Homo sapiens: one gene and its partner. The protein of the gene in region 2 purifies or fractionates together with the protein of the main gene of each other region. This does not show direct contact. Each region holds a gene or a part of one and is shown on either strand. Other genes may lie near its edges.

Region 1 (2,655 bases), on a different chromosome or scaffold from region 2:
AGACAGGTTGATTCCTGGGTCATTTGGCCAGACTTTGAGACATCGAGGCCGACCATCTGATATCCAGCCAATGGGCTAAAAACACACTTACTGTGCTTTGCTTCTTATCCTAATCCCTTTTCCCAGGAGGCCACCAGAGAAGATTTAGATGTGCAGGGGAGGGGACAGCAGGCATATATGGGCCAATTGTGGTAGGGAATTAAAATTGCATTTTAGATGTTGATTCAATTCACTTTATATATATGTTCACACTTTCATGTCTTTGTGACAGAAAGATGATTAAGGTTCTTTCTGTCCAGGCTTAAGAAATATGATGACAAACAGCATGTGCTACATACAGCAGGATGCGGCCCCTGTTCCGGATGGAGATATGGCTTTCAGAACTCTTTACAGTACCATTAAAGTCACATATTTCTATAGTCCCAAATATGCTTGGCATTTATTTGCAGTATTTATAAAGTTTAGTAAAATTCCACATTAAACCTAACATGATCTAAGATGTTCGGTAACATGGCCTCTATGCAATGCTGAGCTGTTTCTTTTACTTGGTACAGATTTGATGAGAAGAGAAATTCCATGGAGCCAGGCTTTCCCAAGCAAATAGCTGAAGACTTTCCAGGGATTGACTCAAAGATTGATGCTGTTTTTGAAGAATTTGGTAAGAGGATACTTACTGTGTTGGCCATAGAGCACTTGAAACATTTTATGATATCAGAGGGAAGAGGAGCATTGAAACTTTTTAATAACAAGTGTTTCTTAGGGCCAGTTCCCTTCTCAAAATTTTGATTCGCCTACATTTGTACTCATTATAGAACTACTTCACAAAATAACTTGTTTGGAACCATAAAGATAATTACACAAATCTCGCTACTTTATCTTATACATGCATATAAAATCAAAGTGCTCCAGTGTCACTTACATCTCGAGCTAACATGTGGAGTCAAGCTCGACTTTCAGATTACCATGTTAGCATAAAAATCCCATCAAGTGGTGTGGCCAGGTTTAATGTTGGTTAGCTGGCCTTCTCCTCCACCCTATCTTATTGCTGCTACTAATTCCCAGGGAGATTTTTTGTCTGTCTTTCCTGAGTTGTCAGTCATTGCCCATGCCAGTCATTTGCAAATACTTACCTTTCCATGTGCCCAAAGTTTAAAAAAAAAAAAAGATTTTGTTTTCTACTCAAGGTAAGGAAGTGGAGGCTGATGATCTTTATTGAAAGGTAACCTGATCACCATGTTTGCAGAGCACTAAAGGGTCCCCTGGTGTTTTGAAATAGTTGCTGTGCTTCCTAGGCTGCAATGCAGGGAAAAGGGAGGAGGATTTTTGGGGAAGAAAGAAATAGGTGATGAGAGTTTCCAAGCAAGTGGAGAATTTATCTGATCGGAAGCAGAATAACCCTGTAACCTGGAATCTGGCTGTGTTTTCAGACAGAGCTGGCACCGAGTGCTGTCTCCATTCTTCCTTGCTGAGTAACCTTGAGGAAGCATCGAAATCTGTCTCAACCTCAACTTGCTCAATCTGTAAATGGAGTTAGACATACAACCTCATAGGGTTGTTGCAGAAATAAATGAAAATAAATTCATGTAACAAGCTTGGCATAGTCCCTGACATAAAGTAAAGCTCTATAAACACTTTCTATTTTTAGTTCTCTATGATTCTGAGTTTTGTATATTGTCAAATGTCTTTATTTGGAAAAATATCTTACTATTTCCCTTGTCTGTATTTGCAGGGTTCTTTTATTTCTTTACTGGATCTTCACAGTTGGAGTTTGACCCAAATGCAAAGAAAGTGACACACACTTTGAAGAGTAACAGCTGGCTTAATTGTTGAAAGAGATATGTAGAAGGCACAATATGGGCACTTTAAATGAAGCTAATAATTCTTCACCTAAGTCTCTGTGAATTGAAATGTTCGTTTTCTCCTGCCTGTGCTGTGACTCGAGTCACACTCAAGGGAACTTGAGCGTGAATCTGTATCTTGCCGGTCATTTTTATGTTATTACAGGGCATTCAAATGGGCTGCTGCTTAGCTTGCACCTTGTCACATAGAGTGATCTTTCCCAAGAGAAGGGGAAGCACTCGTGTGCAACAGACAAGTGACTGTATCTGTGTAGACTATTTGCTTATTTAATAAAGACGATTTGTCAGTTATTTTATCTTATTGTTGTGTTTGTTTGTTTCAAGGGCAAGTTGTTCTCATAATTTGGGCACTTTATGGGCTGAGCATGCTCAGCCAGTAGACTAGAGTCTCCATGGCTTGGGGTTCACAATGGGTTCCAGAACTGCAGAGAATCTACCACTTGCCCTCCTCATGAGCCCTGCAAACAGGATGCTTATTTCTACCACCTAGACATTTTATGTGTCCTGACATACCTAAGGCAAAAAATCTAGAGGGGTTGTGACATTGTAGAGCAGGCTCTAGGAAAAACTGTGAAGGGAATCCTATAATCATAGCAAATTGCCTTGTTTGCACATCTCATTTTACAGGGTGAGGAAATCAGACTTGTTTTTCATCTTTTCCTTTTACTTATAAATTCCCTCAGTGCAGGTCCCTCCCCTGACCTAGCAAGCAAACTTCCTCATATCTACCCTATTCACATGGTAAAATATACTCTTGTACTCATTTTGTATCTGCCTGTGCCTGGATGTAAATGCC
Region 2 (4,123 bases):
CATTATTATGAAGACTAACATATATATACGATCCTATATACTCAATAAATGCTAACGTATTAGTAACAAACCATAAAATATGTTAAGACAGTAAGAGATAAGGTTTTATTTACAATGTAATCTGCCTATTTAAAAAATATATGGTATACACCGAAGTGTTGAGGTTATCATTAGTCAATAGAATTGAGTGCTTTTTATCTTTTTTTATATATTCCCTATAATCAGCATGTTACTTTCACAGTAAGAGGAAAACAAACACTAAATAGGTAGTAACAGAGTTAAGAAAGCAGAGTGTGTTTTACCATTAAATTGAAAACCTAATTTATCCTTATCTTAAAGCTAACTAGAACTAGTCAGCACAGTTTCTTTGTTATACGATATGATTACAAACTAATGCTTTTCGCAAAGGCATTCCACCTTAGATAATCTGGGACAATACTTCATTATTCAGATCCTTGTGTAAAATTTAAAAAAATGAATTTATGAAACACAAATTTAAATAAATTTAAAGAAACACAAATGTATTATTTTCAAACTGTAAATTTTATAACCATTATATAAATGGGCACTGATATACAAAATAATGTCAGTTGCTAAAACAAGACAATTCACAGCTGGCCTACATCATATAATGGCAGAAATCTTTAAACACAAAATCTAATGATTAGAACCAGAAGTTGAAGGCCCACTGAAGGAGTCCTTAATATTATGAGGCCTAGGTTTCAAAAAGCTACCAATTCTAGAATGGATTTTACTCTGGAACTGTTTCTTGACTATTTCTTGTTGCATCTCTTTCAGTGTGAAGTGGAATCTCTGAAACTCAGGTGTGGCATCAACAAAGTCAAGAAGGTAGTCCAAACTCTCTCTTACAGCAGATAATTTAAATTCAGCAGTCTGCTTCTCAGCTTCTCCTCCTTTTTGAACAACTTCCTTTGTTATTCCACCTTTGGTTTTTAGGAGACAACCCTTTTCTTCATCTCCATTTAACCACACCCTATCATCATCCAACTTAGTTTCCAACTCCCCACATTTTTCAAGAATTTCTCTATAATCCCCATGTTCTAAGCCTTGAAAATCATATTCAGGTTCCTTTTTGTAAAGAAGATTTTCCCATGCATTTGCTATGGTTATTTGTTTTACTTCTTCCCAACTTTTTGCCCAGTTAAAAATTGCACTTTTTATATTGTAGATTTTAATTTTGGAAACTCCTTTATCTCCTTTCTCTTGCTCATCATCACTTTCTTCAAATATTACAAGACTCTCTTCAAGTTGCTTCCATCTATACAGCCGTTTGCAGCTCAAGATCACACCTTGATTCATTGGTTGAATCAAGGTTGAAGTGTTATGGGGGAAGAACATACATTTTATTCGACCATCCTCACTGGTTAGGGATTCAGAGGAAGGATGAGCCGGGCAACTGTCCAGAAGTAACAATGCCCTGACGTCCTCGTCATGAAATCTTAGAACATTAAGTTGAAAATGTCGGACCTCAGGAACAAAGTTTTGAAAAAACCATTCTGAAAACAATTCTCTGGTGAACCAAACATCTTTACTGGGTTTATATATCACAGGCAATGTACTTGTGTCCTCTTTCACACTTTTGGGCAGTTTTGATTTTCCAATAATGATTGACTTTAATTTATGAGTTCCGTCTGCATTTGCACATAAAAAGGCAGACAACCTTTCTTTGTTTATTTTCTTCCCTGGTAGGCAGATATCTTTCCTACTTGCCTGAGAATTTTCTGGCATTGACTTCCAAAAGAGGTCTGTTTCATCCCCACTGTATAGCTGAGCTAGACACAGTTTCTCCTCTTTGATTATCATGGACAGTTTTTGTCGAAATGGCTCAACATTTTCAGAAACTGAACTTAGGACTTGTTCCCCACATCCTTTTCGGTTCCCAATTGCATGCCGATTTCGAAATCTAAAAAGCCAACCAGTGCTAGCTTTGAAATCTGTTCGCCCAAAACACCGTGCAAATCTCTCTGCAGCAGCCTGAAGCTCCACGCCTCTTACCGGAACACCGGCTGAGCGTTTCTGTTGGTACCACATGTAGACCGCATCATCTACATCACCATATTTGGCTCCCGTTGTCCTCTTTCTCTTCTCAGCCCCTACTAATGGCATGTCCTGCTTCAGTACAAAGTCCAGAATTAACTTCTTATTTTTTTTAATGTCATAAAATGTTGACTTACTGATTCCAAATTCATCCATTACACTTTTAAGTGATCGTCCAGCTTCAATTCTACTTAGAACCTTCATTTTCTCCTCCAAATTCAGTGTTGTATATTTCCCTCTCTTATTCATACTGAATTTAACTCTGAACCACCAACAGGAGAAAACAAAGGGAAAAGCCTTAATGAATTGGCAAAAAAAAAACCCACATTTTTTAAACAAAACTTAGCTGAAAGCCCCAGAAGGCATGGGCATTGTATTGGAGGATAATGGACTGAAGGGGCTAACCATGACTGAAGAGCTAGTCTAGAGGTGGAGGTCTTATGCACTCAGAAAGCTGCCAGTTGCAAAGTCCTGTCTGGCTCTTGCTCCTGCAAGCCATGAGTGATCATTTTTCAGAATGCCCCCTACCTCTCCTCTCTTTTGACAGATACAACAGCCTCAGTCAGGAATGACAGGAATACCTGCATACTTTCCCTAACTCAATACCGGAAAACGGACAATATGAAGAGAGGAGGGATGGAGCAAGATGTGCCCACAAGACAGGTGTGATAAGTTTCCATAAAAACTGATGCTTCAGAAGAAGGGAGCGTGAAAGACTCAAAGGCAATGACAGAGTAATCTTGTGTGTAGCAGAGATGCAATGTGGCTTCTCCCCTTCCAAAAAGACCTGATTTTACCTCACTGCCAGAAAAGAGAATGGTGCTCAAATTGCTTTGTACATAGTGTTCACTGGGCAGCAGTTCATCTACCTGGATAAGGGCTCCGAGCTACAGGGACCCTGACATTGGGATGTATGGAGAGTTGGAATTCAGGAACAGTTGTACCGAATCTTGAAGTGAAGAAGAAAGTAGTTTGTTGTACATATGAATGAAATCCAACTTTTATTGCATTCAATATAGTATTGTCAAGCACCGTGCTTTAACTTGAATGTCTCTTGTGTTTGCCAAGGTAATATGTAAGTATGTAAATAATTTATTTGTCAGTGGCACTTTACCATTCTCAGATCTTCTTTCTTGGGAACATCTGATTTATTCTCAAGTGCTATTTTTCACTGAAACTGTTCTCTATTTGAGATATTATCAAGTTTCAGAATCACAGCAATTCTCAGAGATGAGCCCAAAAGTTTTACAAATATTTCACCATAGTTAAAAATTTTTAAAGATCTGTCCTTTCATTTGTTTTCCTAAATTTACACTATAAGTAACATACTTTTTATATTTGAGATTTTGATTTCTCTTCAGTGTTTATTTTACTTAATTTGAACCAAGACTCAACTTTTCCACAGAAGAAATCTAAAAGGTTTCTCTGCTGCTGTTTCTGATCAATTGTTTCTCATAAATCCTACTGGCAAACTCTTCTGTCCCTCTAGGCCCTCAAATACTCTTTTCGGGTCCTCCTGGTGCTCCCCAAAGCCATTCCAGGTCCTTAGAAATGTCTTAGTCTAGATTAATTTCCTGGTTCTCAGTCCAGATACACAACCTCATGGGAAGAAACAAAAACTGCCACTTTTATCCATTCCAGGTGCTACGAAGAAAGAAAAGTATGTCAGAGAAATAAGGGAAATGGCTGGTATCTCAGTTATTCTTCCTCTTCTTTAGGGCAGAATCTGACTGGCCCATTCATTCCTCAACTACATAGAATTCTCTCTCTTTTTTTTTTTGAGACAGAGTCTTGCTCTGTCACCCAGGCTGGAGTGCGATGCCGCCATCTCGGCTCACTACAACCTCTGCCTCCCGGGTTCAAGCAATTCTCCTGCCTCAGCTTCCTGAGTAGCTGGGACTACAGGTGTGTGCCACCACACCCGGCTAATTTTTGTATTTTTTTGGTAAAGAGGATTTCACTATGTTGGCCAGGCTGGTCTCGAACTTCTGAACTCATGATCCGCCCGCCTCAGCCTCCCAAAGTGCTGGGATTACAGGCGTGAGCCACCACACCTGGCCCATAG

Evidence for each region.
Region 1: the proteins of TIGD7 (region 2) and MMP3 purify together in Homo sapiens (affinity purification with mass spectrometry; one large-scale study listed by BioGRID and IntAct). This does not show direct contact.

The regions. Positions count from the first base shown.
Region 1 is NC_000011.10:102,835,301-102,837,955, reverse strand, and holds the end of MMP3 (stromelysin-1 preproprotein), read left to right. Parts: intron 1-554; coding exon 555-658; intron 659-1,189; exon of another isoform or gene 1,190-1,518; intron 1,519-1,729; coding exon 1,730-1,830; 3' UTR 1,831-2,155; downstream 2,156-2,655. UniProt on the Homo sapiens protein: Metalloproteinase with a rather broad substrate specificity that can degrade fibronectin, laminin, gelatins of type I, III, IV, and V; collagens III, IV, X, and IX, and cartilage proteoglycans.
Region 2 is NC_000016.10:3,298,308-3,302,430, forward strand, and holds the end of TIGD7 (tigger transposable element-derived protein 7), read right to left. Parts: intron 3,703-4,123; 5' UTR 2,308-3,702; coding exon 658-2,307; 3' UTR 501-657; downstream 1-500. Other genes in the region: ZNF263 (zinc finger protein 263), read left to right, coding at 799-803.